Homo sapiens: one gene and its partner. The protein of the gene in region 2 interacts with the protein of the main gene of each other region in a pairwise test. Each region holds a gene or a part of one and is shown on either strand. Other genes may lie near its edges.

The links. The genes of interacting proteins can lie anywhere in the genome.
Region 1: the proteins of TMEFF1 (region 2) and MLH3 interact in a two-hybrid assay, tested with the Homo sapiens proteins (one large-scale study listed by BioGRID).

What each region holds. Positions count from the first base shown.
Region 1 is NC_000014.9:75,027,451-75,030,986, forward strand, and holds part of MLH3 (DNA mismatch repair protein Mlh3), read right to left. Parts: intron 3,266-3,536; coding exon of another isoform or gene 3,253-3,265; coding exon 3,093-3,252; exon of another isoform or gene 3,092-3,092; intron 1-3,091. UniProt on the Homo sapiens protein: Probably involved in the repair of mismatches in DNA.
Region 2 is NC_000009.12:100,471,638-100,475,958, forward strand, and holds the start of TMEFF1 (tomoregulin-1 precursor), read left to right. Parts: upstream 1-1,511; 5' UTR 1,512-1,907; coding exon 1,908-2,103; intron 2,104-4,321.

The DNA of each region.
Region 1 (3,536 bases), on a different chromosome or scaffold from region 2:
GGTTTCACCACGTTGGCCAGGCTGGTCTCAAAACTCCTGACCTCAGGTGATCTGCCCGCCTTGGCCTCCCAAAGTGCTGGGATTACAGGCATGAGCCACCATGCCTGGCCCACGGACTCTTACTAAAATAACTTCTATTTATTTTTATATTTTTGTATTTTTTGTCTCAAGATCTGTTTGTGGATAAAAGATCTTGTAAGAGATTTACTTCAGTAAAAAAAAAAAAAAAAAAAAAAAAAAAAAACCCAAAAGAACACAGAATAAGTAGGATGCAAGAGGCAATGGTGAACAAAGACTCTGGTGAACACTTTTTTTAATCTAAATAAAGATTGACTATAAAATAAATGACCACCAGGGAATTAAAAACAAGGTGGAATTAAAGTACTAGACAGCAACATGGAAGATGGGAGGAGGGTGATGGGAGATGAACAGTTTGTAAGATTTTGGTACAGTTAGGAAGAGGATAGAGAAGTGAATTACTTTTAAACTTTGATAAGTATGCATGCTAAAAGTTAAGGCTAATCTCTAAAAGGATATAAATGGAATATATAACTTCTAAACGAGTAGAGCAAAAAAAAAAAGAGAAATACAGAAAACTATAATAGAAAACAGGAAAGGAGAGGAAAAAGACAATAAAGACAAAATAAATGATATTTGCTATAAAAAAAGAAACATATAAGTAATCAAAATAAAAAGTAATAGTTCTCTCTAATACCTCCAATGCCACAGCCCAGCAGTAGCTTTCCAAACCTTTACCAAAACATATATGTAAAGTAATCATATTTGGAATGCAATCTAAAATGGACCTTACTCTCCTGCTTAAAAGTTTTCACTGGCTGCCTATAGGATAAAATGCAAACTACTTAGTAGAATATGCTAAATTATTTTATGATTTGACCTTGACAACCCATCTAGCCAACTCCCATCCAGTCAAAGATCCAAGTATAACTTCTGATTTCCCCCCAATTTTTTTTTTTTTTTTTTTGAGACGGAGTCTTACTGTGTCACTCAGGCTGGAGTGCAGTGCAGTGATCTTGGATCACTGCAACCTCCACCTTCCGGGTTCAAGCAATTCTCATGCCTCAGCCTCCCAAGTAGCTGGGATTACAGGCACATACCATCATGCCTGGCTAATTTTTTAATTTTTAGTAGAGACGGGGTCTCATCATGTTGGCCAGGCTGGTCTTGAACTCCAGACCTCAAATGATCCGCCCGCCTTGGCCTCCCAAAATGCTGGGATTACAGGCGTGAGCCACTGCACCTGGCCTGATTTCCCCAAATCTTAACTACCAATAGCCTAACGTTGATCAGAAGCATTACCAATAATATAAACAGTTGATTAACACATATTTTGTGTGTTGTATATATTACACACTGTATTCTTACAATTAAGTAAGCTAGAGAAAAGAAAATGTTGGCCAGGCGTAGTGGCTCATGCCTGTAATCCCAGCACTTTGGGAGGCCAAGGCAGGTGGATCATTTGAGGTCAGGAGTTCAATACCAGCTTGGCCAACATGGTGAGACCCCATCTCTACTAAAAATACAAAAATTAGCCGGGGCATGGTGGTGTGCGCCTGTAATCCCAGCTACTTGGGAGGCTGAGGTAGGAGAATCGCTTTAACCCGGGAGGTGGAGGTTGCAGTGAGCTGAGATTGTGCCATTGCACTCCAGCCTGGGCATCGCAAAAAAAAAAAAAAAAGAAAGAAAGAAAGAAAGAAAGAAAAAGAAAATGTTAAGAAAATCATAAGAAACAGAAAATATATTTATTATTCATTAAGTGGAAATGAATCATCATAAAGGTCTTCACCCTCATCATTTTCACATTGAATAGGCTAAGGAGGAGGAAGAAGAGGAAAGGTTGGTCTTGCTGTCTCAGGAATGGCAGAGGTGAAAGAAAATCTGCATTTAAGTGTACCTGCGCAGTTCAGACCCAAGTTATCCAAGGATCAACTGTAGATCTTAATTTGAGCCATATCTATTGATAGTTCCCTAAACATAGGATGTATCTCAAGTCTCTGATATGTATTCCTCTGTCTAGAATGCCCTTCTCCCCTCTTCTGTACTCAGCACTTTCCCACTATTCTTTTTTTCTTTTTTTTTTTGAGACAGAGTTTCACTCTTGTTGCCCAGGCTGGAGTACAATGGTGCAATCTTGGCTCAATGCAACCTCCGCCTCCCAGGTTCAAGCCATTCTCCTGCCTCAGCCTCCTGAGTAGCTGGGATTATAGGCATGCACCACCACGCCCGGCTAATTTTCTATTTTTAGTAGAGATGGGGTTTTTCCATGCTTGTCAGGCTGGTCTCGAACTCCCGACCTCAGGTGAACCACCCACCACGGCCTCCCAAAGTGCTGGCATTACAGGTGTGAGCCACCTTGCCCAGCCTAGTTTCCCACTATTCTGTAAGACTTTTCTGGCTGTGTGCAGTGGCTCATGCCTGTAGTGCCGGGGGTTTGGGAAGCCAATGCAAGGGGATTGCTTGAGGCCAGAAGTTCAGGACCAGCCTGGGCAACATAGTGAGGCCCCCATCTCTACAAAAAAAAAAAAGGAAAAAATTAGCCAGGCATGGTGGTGCGTGTCTGTAGTCCGAGTTACTTGGGAGGCTGAGGCAGGAAGATTGCTTGTGCCCAGGAGATCAAGGCTACAGTGAGCTATGATTGCACCACTGCACTCCAGCTTGGGCAACAGAGTGAGACCTGGTCTCTCAAAAGTAAAAACTTTTCTTAAGAAAACAGCTTTTCTGTGACATTTTCATTGACTTCACCTCCCCAGGCACACAAGTCATTCTGTGTTTCCATAACACTTCTGAAAAACTATCTTGGTGCATTCTAGACTCTTAGTTTTCATTACCTTTATCACTGGGAAGAAAGCAAAACACATACCTCTACTAGCCAAAGTTCACTGACTATAATTCTTTAAATGCCCTTCTTCCTTATTTTGAGCTAACTCATCTCTGAATTTCTAGCTCCTGGCACACCGCAGGTAAATACCATGAATACTTGTTGAAGAAAAGATGAATTCAGAGAATCTACAGACAAAATATGAGGTTACCATCACTCAGCAATTTCCTTAACATCTGCAGCTGTGTCTTACCTCCACAATACTCTTGGTCACAGTAGATCTTCCTCTCCGAAGTTCATTGGCTTCTCTTTCCACAAAACATAGTGGTACTTTTCCCACAAGGACCAGAGAATCACTAGTGTCTGGAAATACAAATTCAAGGCCCAGATCTTCCAGATTTTTGTGGTAACACCTAAAGAGATAACCTCAAATGTTAAAAAAAAAAAGAGTGCTACTTCATTTGCACTTCACTACTGGTTCCAAATACTACTTAATAGTTTTTCAAAAGCTGCCACAGGGCTTAACAACCGTATTGTTTTTCTCACACTTATGTGTGGGTGTTTGGGATTTTTTATTATCAAATTTCCTTTTTGAATTACAGTAACCTTTATTGTTTTTCTCTTTTCCATTGGGAATCAATCTGTGTCTAAGTCTTGTTTCTAAGTGTGTTTTCTTCATTGAGGAACTGCTAACTTC
Region 2 (4,321 bases):
CCTCCTAAAATGTATAAATTAGTAGTGCTCAGTCTGCCAATTCTTTTAACTCTTGTTAATCATCCAAAGGGAAAATAATTGTGTGTGCGTGTGTGTGTGTGATGGAGTTTCGCTCTTGTTGCCCAAGCTGGAGTGAAATAGTGCAATCTCTGCTCACTGCAACCTCTACCTCCCGGGTTCAAGCGATTCTCCTGCCTCAGCCTCCTAAGTAGCTGGGATTATAGGCGTTACAGGTGCGCGCCACCATGCCTGGCTAATTTTTTCTATTTTTAGTAGAAACGGGGTTTCACCATGTTAGCCAGGTTGGTTTCGAACTCCTGCCCTCAGGTGATCCGCCCACCTCGGCCTCTAAAAGTGCTGGGATTACAGGTGTGAGCCACTGCCCCTGGCCAGAGTTTTGTGGTTTTAATCTTTTATTACTAGTGGGTTCAAATCTGTTTTCATGTATTTATTGTCTGTACTTTTTGTGAATAAGAGTCAAGCTTCCTATTTTTCTATTATGTTAACTTTTTCTTCTTGACATATAACTTTATATTAAGTATATTGTCTCATATTTGCACTGAAGACATTTTTCCTAATGTGGCTTTGCTTGCGGTGGCTTTTCACACATTTCTTAATTTTATGAATCAAATTGATCAGTTTTTCAATGAGACTTAAAATTCCTTCTGGGGTGGGATGCAATATAATAGAATGAAAAAGGCAGAGGACTTTCACACAATTCAGTCCATGATCTTAGTACCTATGTCTAGTTATCACCTAGCAGGATGTGGTAGGAAGAGCACTGGACTGGGAGTCAGATCACCTTGCCTCTCTGGGTCCCTACTTCCTCATCTGTAGAATGGAGATAAGAACGAAAACTCCCTCCGAGGCCTGTAAAAAAATAATTGAAGAGAATGCACATAAAGAGCTTTCACCAGGCCTTGTATATTAGAAAATCCTCTCTGAATCTCAGCTTTTGTTAGGGGGAGAGGGCAACACAGACTTTTGTAAAACTATTTTCACTCACTTGTATGTGAGTCTACGGGAATGAGGTGGGGATGAGGAACCTAGAAATCTAACCATTCACCCAACATCTCTGAGAACTGCATGGCTAGAGTCAGAACTTGGGCTCCCATCCTGGTCCTGCCCATTTCTTGGTATGCAACCTTGGACAAGTCACCTTTACCTCTTCCGTGACTCAGTTTCTTCCACCTAAAAACTATTATAGATATATGACAGACCACCTGCCCTCATTCCCAGCCCTGCTGCTGGGCGAAGGAAACGCTTCAAAAACAGCTCACAAAGGGCGGCAAACAAGTCTGCTACGGTGCAGCCTACCGCCGAGGGGTGGCCCCAACCCCGGCCCCCGCGCCCCTGCCCTGTCGCAGGAACAATAGCTCCCCTGGAGGCGGCGCCGGCCGCGGCCGGGGGCGGAGCTGTCGGCGCGGGAGCTGGGGGTGTGCGCGGGGCGGGGTCGCAGCCACCCCTCCCGCCGGCGGCTCCGTCACGCGCCCCTCACCGGGCGGGCCGGGGTCTTTGTGACGCGGTGGCAACGGCCACGGACACAAAGGGAAGGCGAGGAGGCGAGCAAGAGGCTGGGCCTGCCTCCGGCCCGCGACCCCCGCCCGCCGCGCGCGCGCCCGCCCGCTCCCCTCGCCGCGGTGTCCCCCACGCCGGCTCGCACCCTCGCGCGCACCCTTGCGCGCCCGCGACCCTCGCACGCGCCCGGACCCGCCGACTCCGTCCCGAGCGCCGCGGGCCCGGGCCTGGCGGACGCTGCGGGTGGGGCGGGGATGCTGACGGGCTGCTCCCCGGCTCAGCGGCGCGGCTGCTAGGAGGCACCGAGGCAGCGGCGGGGCTCTGGGCGCGCGGCTGGATGCCCCCGGCCTGCGGCTCCCTGCGCTTCCCGCCGTCCAGGGGCACCAGTCATGGGCGCCGCAGCCGCTGAGGCGCCGCTCCGGCTGCCTGCCGCGCCTCCGCTCGCCTTCTGCTGCTACACGTCGGTGCTTCTGCTCTTCGCCTTCTCTCTGCCCGGGAGCCGCGCGTCCAACCAGCCCCCGGGTGGTGGCGGCGGCAGCGGCGGGGACTGTCCCGGCGGCAAAGGCAAGAGCATCAACTGCTCAGGTAGGACCGGTCGGAGCCGGCCCTAGGTCTTCCCACCCCTCCGTTGCCGCCTCCCTCGTGGTCCCTGCGGTCGGCCGGGCTGGGAAAGACCCCGTCGTGGGGGTCCCAGGGGTGGGCCCGAGGGTGAGCGAGGGCGGAGGGCAGGGCGCGAGCGTGCGGTGTGGCTTTGGGACCGGCGCTGGGGATGGGAGTGGCCGTGGGTGCGTCCGAGTGTGTCGAGTGGCTGGGCGAGGGCGGCCCGGCGTGTGGGGAGGCGGTGGGGCCGGGGCCGGGGCCGGCGAGGCTGAGCGGCCGGCCGGGGCTCCCGGTGTGGTCGTGGGTGTGCTCGCGGGAGCGTGTGTTTGTGTTGTGAAGGCTGAGGGGAGGGAGGGCGGCCCCAGGCAGGGATCTGTGTGTGTGTGTGCAGAGTGCGGTGGGTGGGAGACGGCGAGGGGGCTGGGCGGGGTGAGGGCAGGGGAGTGACCATGTGCTGATGTGCTGGGGAGATTCTTCCTTAAGGCACTGGGGGTCTCGGGGGTGGGGGTCGTGTGGATAAAGGGAACGGGTTGTCTTGAGGACGCGGTTTGGCGATGCAGAGTGACTGTGTGTGTGCGCGCGCGCGCGCGTGTGTGTTCTTTGGGTTCTGAGATGGGATCTGGGGGCTTAGAGTGACCTCGGGTCTGTGGATATGAGCGGGGAAAGTCCCAGGGCCCAGGAAGTGACCCTGTGTTTTTGTGTGTTGTGTGTGAAGCCTGGGGCTCAGTTAGTCACCCTGGGGTATGCATTGAAGAGGAGGGATGGGTGCCCTATAGCGAACCCCATTTATGTCTTTTCAAAGGGGAGGAGGCTTGGGAGTCATCATCCTGTGTAGGGTTTGGATGTAGAAAGAGGAAATTAGGTCTCAGGGAATGCCCTTGTGTAGCAAGGTGTAACCCTGGGTTATTAAAGTGTGGAAAGAGAGAATTGGGTCCCAGGGAAGATGTCGTGCCTGTGTGTGTGTGTTTTGCGGGAGGGCCTGGATTCTGGCAGCAGCGGGGAGCAAGGGAGTGACCTCTCCCCTCTCTCCAAGGCCGCTTGCCCCCCCACAGCTGTTGGAAACAAAGAGCTTGCTGAGGCTTTAGTGGATAACACTGGGGAGGAGGGTCCCAGCAGTAAAGTTCCTCTTCATTTCTAAAGGGGTCCCAGAGGCGCACAAGGATTATGGCCCTGGGGCAAAGACAGGCATTCAGGTCTCATTTTTTGAGTGGAGGGTCTTCTTGGAGCTGGCCTAGCAGATGCTAGTGATCATAAGCCACATCCTTGCTAACTTGCCCTTTTATCAATTCTGGAGCCTTCTCTTGTCTTCTTTAAACCAAGGCGGAGTAGGGGGAGGAGGGAGGAACATAAGGCCACTGGGAATCTGCCGGACAACCTTTATACTTTTGGGCTCTTGAAGGGGCATTATTTCTGGAAGAGTGAGGAAGGAGCAAGAGAGTCTCAGCGCAGATGCTTATGCTACCCTAAATGAAGCAAGCCTTTGGCCCGCTATTTAGGTTTGAAGGCCTTAAATCTTTTAATAATTTTCATATGGTAATGTTTTATGAGGGGAATGGCAGTTTTGAGCACAGTAAACAATGGCATGTCCATTAAAAGCATTTCCATCCGTGAAAAAACTTTTCTGTTATTTTTCTGATGTTGAACGGGATATGGGGTAATGCTTTATTACATAATCATACTTTAAGAATAAAAACCAGTTGTATATTAGAGTGCCTTTTTATGTAACAAATATTAATTATCAAACTTGTAAGTGATCGCACCATGTCAATATTTTTCCAGCTAATGTGTCGCGGGTATTTGTTCTTGCTAAGCTAATTCGTTCTTAGCAAAATATAGTGTGTCTTGATGGGATGTTTTTGTGTGTACTTTCTAACTTGCATAGTTCAAGTTTTAAGAAAGGAAATAAAAGAAATAGAGGGATGGATACCCTTGAGGATGTGGGTTGGTGATGCAGAGCGACTGTGTGTGTGTGTGTGTGTGTGTGTGTGTGTGTGTGTGTGTTCTTTGGGTTCTAAGATGGAATGTAGGGGCTTGGAGTGACCTCGGGTATGGGCAGGAAAGTCCCAGGGCCGGAGAAGTGAACCTGTGTTTTTGTGTGGTGTGTGTGCGTGTGAAGCCTGGGGCTCAGTTAGTCACCCTGGGGTACTATGCATTGAAGAGGAGGGGTGGGTGACATGCAGTGTGGGAAAAAGGGGACTGATCT